2 separate regions of the Homo sapiens genome follow, and region 1 is linked to region 2. Evidence: fine-mapped expression QTL. A gene starts in region 2. The other region holds a variant in brackets. All regions are shown on one strand. Distances are between the middles of the regions. Region 1 has its middle 48 kb from the start of DENND2B. Region 2 holds the start of TMEM9B (TMEM9 domain family member B).

Region 1 (5,377 bases), 110 kb before region 2:
GAGCTTAACATGAAATAGAATCAAATGTTAATGTTCCATTAATAACATTTGATGCAATATGATCAAAAGACTGAAGCTCTAGTACCCAGCACAGTATCTGGTGTTTAAGAAGTGCTCCTCAATAAATATCCATTGAATGTTAAATGATCCAGGATTTTTTTCTTGCATCCAAAACTTTCAGATCCAGTAGAAGATATTATTTAAAAGTCTGTGTTCTCACTTTTATGCTGACTTTCAAAGTGTTTTGTTAGAGATGGAAAAAGATTTCTGGGTATGGAAAAATTTTTAAAGTATCATACACTGCCAATTCACTGGCCTGGTACAGGCTGTATCAATCTGTTCTCATCAGCTCTGGTTGAAAACATATGTGGACTACCTGAATGGGCCTAGGCTTGAGCACAACTTATCCGTCCAAAGCATTTGTGGGCCCAGGAGACAGGTTTTACTTCCACTGGTCACACGTGTCCAAAAAAAAATGTGCAAGGTTGGTTGGAAGTCCCTGGATGCCTGACTCCCCAACCACTATATTGGGCAGCTCCCCTGATGGAAAGGCAGGCCCAGGCCCTCTCTGGGCAGCTGCTCCCATTCATTTCCGTCTGTTCCTTCAGTCTCTCCTCACTCTATCACTATTTTCTTTTTTTTTTTTTTCTTTCTTCAGACAGGTCTTGACTGTCACCCAGGCTAGAGTGCAGTGGTGCAATAATGGCTCCCTGCAGCCTTGAACTCCTGGTCTCAAGCAATCCTCCCACCTCAGCCTCCCGAGTAGCTAGGACTACAGATGTGTGCCACCATGCCCAGCTAATTTTTTACTTTTTGCAGAGACAGGGTCTCACCATGTCACCCAGGCTGGTCTAGAACTCCTGGGCTCAAGCAATTCTCCTGCCTCAGTCTGCCAAAGCACTGGGATTACAGGTATGAGCCACTGCACTTAGCCCCATCACTATTTTCACATCAGTATAATGTTATCTTGTATCCCTCCTGTCCTAACCTGGCCCAGGTTTCTTAGAAGAATTATCATCTGGATACTAAAATGTCATTTATAGCCGCATACAGAATTAAGGCAAAATACCAGGTCTCCTCCTTCTTATCCCCAAACTCTATTAGAAAGCTGAGTATACACATATTGCCTGATAATTTCATGTCATCTTCTCCAAAAACCACCACAAATCTCTAAAAACAGAAACAGAAATAACTAAAATGATACTAGGCCCTTAGCAATAATACCTGGATTGTTACAAGGGCCTCCTAACTCCTCTTAGCTTCTAGTTTCCTCCTCAATTCCAATCCATTTTCTATACTATCCATTCTGTCACCATCCCTGTAGAGAAAGACAGAACAATAGTCAAAGCATTTTCACATGCCTCCCACTCATTCCAAACTCAAAGTCTTCAAGATGACATTCAAGATCCCAGAGGATCTGATTCAGCCTGGTCTGTCTCCGATGGGCTCCTTTATAAACCTGCTGATTCCAATAGACCACCTATTTCCAGCCCATACAAGCCAACATCTTTTCTGCCTCTGGGCCTTTGCTCATGCTGCCCCTGGTTACTCCCCAACCCCCAGAGTCCTCCTGGATTCTGAAGGCAGCACTGTGTAGAAGAAAGGGAACTAAATTAGGAGTCAAAACACCTGGATGCCAGACGTGGTTCTGACATCAACTGGTTGTGTGCCTTTGGGCAGGTCCTACACCTCTCTGGGCTCAGTTTCCTGTCTATAAACAGAAAGATTGGACTAGTTCACCCTATAGCCCTTCCACCTTTAAAAAAAAGTATTCTTCGATTCCTATATGCTCGACCAAATCCAATCTCTCCTTCAAAGTCTGCAGGTCCTCCAAGAAATTTCTCTGAGCACTTCAGCCCACACTATTCTGTCCCCTCTGTGTGGAATCCAGAACAAATTACACAGTGCATTCATTCAACCAAGATTTCTGAGCATTTTCTTGGCCATGTTATGATAGCAAAGCCTTGGTAATAAACATAAAACCAGTTAGGACCCAGGCTGTAGTTATCACCTGTACCTCCCTTTCCTCTCCACTATTTTTACCCAAGTGAAGTCATGAACAGCAAATGAATGCAAAAGATACCATTTAGTCATTTATTTAACAAATATTTAAAGAAAACCTTCCATG[T/C]CCTATTCTAAAAAGTAAAGATATCAGTAAACAAATGGATCAAGTCCCTAACTTCATGGAGTTTATTTATTTGGGAAAGCAGACAGGAAAAACACAGAAATATGTAATATAATTTTAGGAAGAAAAAGAAAGGAGGGGATTAAAGAGTGACTCGGAGCAGTTTTACATAGGATGGGCAGAGAAGGCCTCCCTGAGGTGGCACACTCGAGCCCACACTCAAATGAACTGGGTGACAAACCAGCAATATTCAAGGAGAAGAGCATCCTAGGAGCAGGCAAAGGCCATGAGACAGAAGAGATGGGAGGAAGGCAGGAGCAGATGGGAGAGCTGGGGCTTAGACCACACAAGAACTTGGTAGTAAATGTGCATTGTACTTCTAAGTGTGATAGCATTCCATATGAGGGTAAAAAATATATATATTCTCATTGCTATGTGGAGAAGAGACTGCAAAGACAGGAGCAGAGGAGCCAGGACCAGCTGAGGATGGCTATTCTGAACCAGTCGAGGGCTTGGCTGGTCACCCAAACTAGGTCATTTCCTGGCTCTCCAGCTTATAAGCTGTGTGAGCTCAAGAAAGTCCATCTCTTGTCTCAGTTTCTACACCTTTAAGCAAGGATAATAAAAATACCTATATTATAAGGTTGTCTGGAAGGCTAGATTAGTGCACATAAAACCCTTACAACAGCCTCTGGCAGCCAGTAAACATTCCATAAATGCTAGTACTTCAAAGCCAGGGAATCACCTAAGAAAAGTGAAGACAGAGACAAGAAACAGGCTGAAGACTGAGCCCTTGGGCGCTCCAAAAGCTCCAAAGGCCTCCATTTGGCCCAAGATTTGCCATAAGCCTGCACGTCCTAAACCTTGTCTGGGGCTCCAAACCCCCTGTATGTATCAATAACTCAAAATTTAGAGCTTGATGATGTACTGCTTTATATCATTCTTTAGGTAACAATTATATGTTCTAAGTTCAGGTTATCACTTTCCCTCAGTTGTATTGTATATCTACTACCAGGCTTGGCATAGGGTTAGATAAACACTAACGTGTTTTTTTGTTTGTTTGTTTGTTTGTTTGTTTTTTTGAGACAGAGTCTCCCTCTCTCGCCCAGGCTGGAGTGCAGTGGCGCGATCTCGGCTCACTGCAAGCTCCGCCTCCCGGGTTCACGCCATTCTCCTGCCTCAGCCTCCCGAGTAGCTGGGACTACAGGCGCCCGCCATCGCGCCCGGCTAATTTTTTGTATTTTTTAGTAGAGACGGGGTTTCACCATGTTAGCCAGGATGGTCTCAATCTCCTGACCTCGTGATCCACCCGCCTCGGCCTCCCAAAGTGCTGGGATTACAGGCGTGAGCCACCGCGCCCGGCCACGTGTTTTGCAAATACTCATTCATGGATTATATCATGTATATTTCAAAGAAATCAATGTAAGGCACTATACTTCCTTTTAAAACAAAGAACCATCTTCTCTTCAAGGAATAATGTGAATTATAAGTTATATCCTCAGCACTGCCCCACTACCCCCACTACCCTATCAGTCCCATCTTGGCAGAGACAGGCATGCTGACCAAAGAAGTTACACCATCTGCCATGCCATTTTCCCACCTGACTTCCTGTCCACATGCTTTGTGAACAAAGTTTTCTGTCTCTTCTTTCCTGGAAATTTCTCAAGCTGTAAAAACCTCCCATACCTAGCAACATGTCACACCTGCCCCTGTCCCCAGAATTCCCCATGGCCCTTAAAAAAGCCTAAACAATGAAGCCAAAATATTCCCAGAAAAACAGGAGCATCAAAACTTAGGAAGAAAAGAGGGAAAGAAAATGGGCATAACCCAAATAAACACCTAGAGAATCATCCAGCAGGGTTCTTCCCGCCAAGGTACAGGAATCTCAGTGCCTTCAACTAGTTACTATGAATATTTATAAAATGACCTTAGGAAGTCCTAGCCAGAACAATCAAGCAAGAGAAAGAAATAAAGGGCATCCAAATTGGAAAACAGGAAGTCAAACTATCTCTGTTTGCTAATGATATGATTGTACACTTAGAAAACCCTAAAAGATGCCTAGATCCTCCAAAAGACTCCTAGATTTGATAAATTCAGTAAAGTCTCAGGTTACAAAATCAACGTACACAAATCAGTAGCACTGCTATATACCAACAACCACCAAGATGAGAATCAAATCAATAACTCAATCCTTTTTAATACCTTCAAAAACAAATAAAATACCTAGTAATATACTTAACTAAGAAGGTGAAAGAGCACTACAAGGAGAACTACAAAACGCTGCTGAAAGAAACCACAGGTGACACAAACAAATAGAAATACACCCCATGCTCATGAAATCAAAGAATCAATATCATGAAAATGAGCATACTACCCAAAGCAATCTACAGATTCAATGCAATTCCTATCCAAATACTAACATCATTTTCGAAAATATTAGAAAAAACAATTCTAAAATTCATATGGAACCAAAAAGGAGCCCAAATAGCCAAAGCAATCCTGAGCAAAAAGAAGAAATCTGTAGACATCACGTTACCTGACTTATACTGCAAGGCTATAGTAACAAAACAGCAATGGTACTGGTATAAATGTAGATACACAGACCAGTGAAACAGAATAGAGAACCCAGAAATAAGCCAAATACTTACAACCAACTAACCTTCAACAAAGCAAACAAAAACATAAACTGGGAAAAGATACCCTATTCAATAAATGGTGCTGGGAAAACTGGCTAGCCACACGCAGAAGAATGAAACTGGATCCCTATCACTCACCATATACAAAAATTAACTCGAGATGGATCAAAGATTTAGATCTAAGACATGAAACCATAAAAATTCTAAAAGAAAACTTAGGAAAAACTCTTCTGGACATTGGGTGAGACAAAGAATTTATGACTAAGACCCCAAAAGCGAATGTAACAACAAAAATAAATAAATAAATGGGAACTAATTAAACTAAAAGGCTTCTGCACAGCAAAAGAAATAACCATTAAACAGACAACCCGCAGAATGGGAGAAAATATTTGCAAATTATGCATCTGACAAACAACAAATACCTAGAATCTGCAAGGAACTCAAATAATTCAGCAAGAAAAAAACACTCCCATCAAAAACCGAGCAAATGATATGAATAAACATTTCTGAAAAGAAGATATACAAATAGCCACGAAATATATGAAAAAAATGCTCAACATAACAAATCATCAGGGAGATGCAAATTAAAACCACAATGAAATACTCTACCTTACTC
Region 2 (5,377 bases):
TTTGGCTGTATACCTTTAGGCCTGCAGGCATCATGCACGTAGGGCCTCACTCTCACTTTTTCAAATGGAAGTAGAATTTCACATTTTTGCTTCAAATGAAATACTTAAAAAGAAAACTATGCATTTGATGAACATTCTGGGATAACACTGACAACCACAGAAACAAATGTGACAGGTAATTCAGTAATCCAGATACTTACCAATCTTTCTGAGATATGTTCTTATTATAAATATGCCCAGAATTTTCTTTATAGGGAGGGCAGATACATTTACATCTGACATCCTCGAAATTCTGTAACCAAAATGGAAACAGTATAGTGCGTTGACAGTTTATCATCAATATTTTTAAAAACTGTACCATATACATTTTGCCAAGCATCCTCTTTAGAATACCAAGTATTCTAAAATCATTCATTTAAAACTTTAACAGACACAGTTTTTAAAAGCCACAGTCCTTTATGGTAATGCCAATGAATCATTATATATTACATGTAGTTATTTTGAAATAATACCTAATACATGATCTAAGACTTATTAACCATATTTATGGGTCACATGACAATCAAATTATGTTAATGTTATTACCATCTATCTGCCACTAGAAAGACACATGGTAAGCAGATAGTTGTGCCTGTAAATAAGAATATTCATTACTAAAGGATGGGAAAGAAACTAAAAATTATTCACAAAAAAGGTCACAATTCTACCTATCATCCTTTCACCCTCTGGTAGAAGGCACTGACATTGATAAAACGGGTTGGGCCAGAGTCCCGTAGAAGGGATGAAATGTTAGAGGCACCCACCTACAACTAGAAAGGAAGTACACACAGGAAGTAGCCTGACTCTGAGATCAGTTTAGTATACTCTTCCCAGGAAACTTTGCTTCTAATTCCTGGTTGACAGACAGAACAACTACCAACAAAACAAGTTTCAAGAGGTGGAGGAACAGGTGACTAAGTATCTGGATAGAGAAAAGAAGAGATGCTTCCTCAGCAAAGGGGAATCTGTTTGAGAAGGAAGTGGCTTATCATTCCCCAGAGGACCTTGCCCACTCCTCCTATATACAGTGATATGTCTGGCAGAGCTATTGACAATTCACAAACGTATTCAGCAACCACTTAGTGAGCATTTGCTCTGTGTTAGATCTTGTGCTCAATAAGGTGGATTCAGATAAGCATAAGACATGGTTTCTGCCCATAACCAGGACACACCCTAGTAAAGGAGACTGAAAAATAAATACATGATCACAATACATAAAGTTATGAGGCAAGATATGCAGAGGGTGCCAGCAATGTTTTCAAAGTCAGGAGACGTGCTGCTGTCCCTGTTTCTGGTAGGAGGTAGAGATGGTTTCAAAAAGAATCTCTGAATCAAAAACATTTGCCTGCCTGTAACCTTTCCCCACTCCTACATTTAAAGATATTATAAATTAAAGCTCTTATTTTTAAAAACGCAATGTCATTCTGTTTTCCCATCATACTAATGTGAATCCCTTCTGTTCTCCCCCAATGATGAGCTAGCTCATCAAAGAGGAAGCACAGGTATGCATGGAGCTAGGGCAGGTCTGGAGAGCTGGGGCACCAGAGAACAGTATGAGGGAACTAGAAGGTCAAGAAATCGAACCAGGGAGGCCACAACCTCACCTCTCTTGCAGTTTGGTTCTTCCCTTACCCACTAAATTATCAGGAAGAGAGAAAGCAAGAAAGGCACCAAGGGACTCGTGGAGGGAGTTAGGTGAGAATATGAAGCAGGTGAGAGATGCTCCGTAGGCCCTATTGGGAGGGAAGTAGGCCAGGAGGGGCAAGTTCCCACCACAGGAAGGGAAGTGTTCAGGGGTGAGCTGAGCTGAGTCGGCCCTTGACAGGGAAGGCTCTGTCAGATGGGGGCTTCCTATCATTCTGGCTTGGGGCATGCGGGGCCTGTGAGGCTGGCGGAGGGCGCAGGTGGGCTGTCAAGAGCTTAGGGTGGAAAGTTAAAGGCTCTCGGAGGTGAAAAGGTTGTCAAGTGTAAGATGCGTGCAGCCGGGGCTGGGAAGGGAAATGTTAAGGCGGTGGGGGGCTGCTGTCCGGACTGTGGGCACTGTCGGGGCTGGGGACGACCGTGGGGCGCTGCCTGCCAGGCTGTCGGGGCTGAGGGCGAGAGTGCCGCCGGGCAGTCGGGAGGGGCGGGGCTGGTGGCGGCGGGGGTCTGCCGGAGCTGTGAGGCCAGGCGTATGGCTGTCAGGAATGGGCCAAGGAGCAGGTTGGCAGACCCAGTTTCCGCAAGGCCGGTGGTAGGGGAGGAGCTTCCGTCAGGAGCGAGGCTGGGCGGGACTCACCTTGGCGGCGTCTGACAGCTGCGCCAGCAGCAGCACGGAAAGCGCCAGGCACGACAGGCTGAGCAAGGAGCCAAGCCGAAGAAGGCCTCCCCACAGGGTCGCCATCGCTGGGGGCCCAGCGGTCCCACAGCCCGGAGCCCCCGCGACCGGCTCCCGGCTCGGGCTCAGGCTCAGGCTCAGGCTCAGGCACAGGCTTGGGACCCGGCTGGGGATCCTCCGCCCGCACTTCCGTCTGGACGCGAAGGCGTCACCGGGCGCGCCGGGTCAGATGCAAAAAGCATCCGCCCCGGAACCGGTTACCAGTGCGAAGGGCCGGGAGGCTGGGCAGTCCTGGTGCCCGCCTTGGCCTAGCCCCGGCCCCGGGACGGAAGGGGGCCTCTGGGGTGGCAGCCTGGGCCCAGTAGAGCTTTGCATCTCTTGGATATCTTTCCCGGGCGCAGAAGCTGCGGGGCTTAGGGAGTCGCCATTGCGCTGGAAAGTCCTCCCGCCCACGGAGACCCCAGCAAACTCCGAGTGTCACACAGTCGCCTCTGGCGACCCGTGCGGGCCGGAGCCGTTCGCGCACAGGCAGGGCGGGTGCTGAGCGTGGAAACGGGGCTGGAATTGGCCGAGCCATGCCTTTCCGGGATGCCCACCGCCAGTCAAAGGGTTGGGGGTGGTCTCTGCACCTTAAGTACTAACCTGCCGCCCACGCGCCTCCTGACCACAGCACCCCGTCGGCTTTCTAATTCTGTGAGCTGCCCTCGTGGGCGTGGCCTCCCTGTGGAGCTCCCCATGTGCCTCCCCTTGGTCCAGCCTGCAGCTAGGAAGTGGGTCACAGCGACGGGGCTGGGCTGGGCCAGGCCAGGCTCCGGGAGATGTGGAATTGGCGAAACAACTGCCCCAGTAGTATCCTCCGCCTAGGACTCCAAGAGGTGGCGAATTGGGGCACTACGCCCGGGTAAGGCAGTGCCTGTTCAGGGCTGCCGACCTGTCTCCCCAGGGCTGTCATTCTCAGCAAGTACTTTAGGAGTGCCTTAGATCGGCACATTCTCCCATTGAAATATTTTTGTTAGTGGAGACAAGGGAGGTAATGGCAAGGACACGGATCATCACAGCCCCTAGGGATTTGTTGAATGACCTTTGGCAAATCACTTCCCTTCTCTGGGCCTGTAGTTCTTGGCTGAATATGAGGGAATGGATTTCAAATTATGCTCCATGTAATACCCGTGTTTTTACCTCTGTAAACAGATTTTTTTGTTTTTTTTGAGACGGAGTCTCGTTCTGTCCCCCGGGCTGGAGTGCAGTGGCGCGATCTCGGCTCACTGCAACCTCCGCCTCCCGGGTTGACGCCATTCTCCTGCCTCAGCCTCCCTAGTAGGTGGGACTACAGGCGCCCGCCACCACGCCGCCCGGCTAATTTTTTTTTTCTTTTTCTTTTTCTTTTTTTTTTTTTGTATTTTTAGTACAGACAGGGTCTCACTGTGTTAGCCAGGATGGTCTCGATCTCCTGACCTTGTGATCCGCCCGCCTCGGCCTCCCAAATTGCTGGGATTATAGGCGTGAGCCACCGCGCCCGGCCCCAACAGATTTTTAAAGATGGTCTTTTCCCAATTTGTGGAAATGTTTTAACAGAATGCTCTCAATATTTTTCGCCCATGTGATTCTTAGATTCATGTGAATCTAACACAACGTATCTGATACTGTTCCCAACAGGAACCAGGGTGGCAGGGCTAGATGTCCTCTCACCAGACTGCCCAGTGAAGGTGCTGTCACTTTGATGAATTATCAAGGCTTTGTAGTGGGTCTTCTACTGGACAAAGGACAAACTGGAGACTCCCTGGATCAAATGTGTTGGTGAGGCACTGAATCTGATTGCTGAAAGGTGATTCAGCTGCAAGTTAGGCATCAGTTTAGGGTTTTCTAGGCTTGGCATCTAAAGGGAGTGCCTGCTGTAGCTGAAACCTCATAGGCCTTCTCTTCCTTCCGAATTGTTTTCAAGGCCTTGGGGGTACAGAGACTTAGAGAAAATACATAGTTGTGCCTCAGACTGATGGGCCTCATCTGTTTAATGGAGAAACACCAAGCACACTCAGTCTGGGCGGAATTTTAGAGCTCCATAGTATAACCACTATCTAGCTACATGTGGCAATTGAGCATTTGAAATGTGGCTAGACTGAATTGAAATGTGCTGTATAAAATATACACTTAATTTCAAAGACAATATTTTTAAAATGTAAAATATTTCAGTAATTTAAAAATATGGTTTAAATATTTTAGATATGTTGGGTTAAATAAAATATATTAGTAAAATATTTCACTTGTTTTTTGACCTCTTAAATGTGGCTGCTAGAAAATGTTATAGTGCTGTCAGGAAGTGCTGTTCTGGAATACAGAATGTGGCTGCCGTGAGTGGAGTGTGACTATGAGATAGTCGCCTGACTGGAGACAATGAAGCCTCAGGCCAAGGTAAGAGGGCTGACAAGGAAGAACTGGCACAACTAGAGCCGAATGTTTGGGGGAGGTATATGTCTGCCAAAAAATGAATATAATTTCAGGTGACTCAATAGAAGTGGAGGGATCAGTTTCTCTTGTTCTGCCCTGCTCTTATCTAGGTAACTCTTACTTTTCCTTTAGGTCAGGGTTCTTCTAAGCCAGAAAACCTTCACTGACTTAAGTGCACTCCTTTCTATGTTTGCATAGATCTCTTTCTTAACTTTACCCCATTATAGTAAAATTATGTTTTCACATTTGCCTTTATACCCAAACCTCCACCAAAATATTGTGAGCTCTCTGAGGGTAAGGACTTTGTCTTATTATTGTTATACCTGGAGACAGATTAAAACAATATGATGTTTGTGGGGACCAGGGAAAAGGGGAATGGGAGAGGCTCCTCTGGTTAGTCTAAAAGAAAAGTATCAGGCACCTACTTGAATCCTCATTTGATTTCTTTCTGACCATGAGAGGGGATGCTGAGATGCCCAAAGATGTGCAAATGGCGGGATCCGGCGCACCATAGTAGGCAGGGGAGTGAAGATTTCTCACCTCGGGTCTTCCTAGACCTTCAGGTCACACGGGAAT

Evidence for each region. PIP is the estimated chance that this variant, and not a neighbour inherited with it, causes the effect. A credible set is the group of variants that fine-mapping cannot tell apart.
Region 1: its variant is the best candidate, but not a certain one, in a credible set for the expression of TMEM9B in whole blood (INTERVAL, PIP 0.57).

The regions. Positions count from the first base shown.
Region 1 is chr11:8,856,119-8,861,495 of GRCh38, forward strand. It overlaps a transcript of DENND2B not described here. Among named protein-coding and RNA genes, the nearest start is that of DENND2B, 48 kb to the left of the region's middle. The variant T/C (reference allele first, on the strand shown) is at 2,129.
Region 2 is chr11:8,961,892-8,967,268 of GRCh38, forward strand. It overlaps TMEM9B (TMEM9 domain family member B), which reads right to left and starts at 2,551. Exons shown (of 5, transcript NM_020644.3): 1 at 2,318-2,551; 2 at 201-292. The coding sequence starts at 2,422. It overlaps TMEM9B-AS1 (TMEM9B antisense RNA 1), which reads left to right and starts at 2,784. Exons shown (of 5, transcript NR_073431.1): 1 at 2,784-3,257; 2 at 4,013-4,153; 3 at 4,650-4,765. RefSeq lists silencers at 2,015-2,204, 2,245-2,744.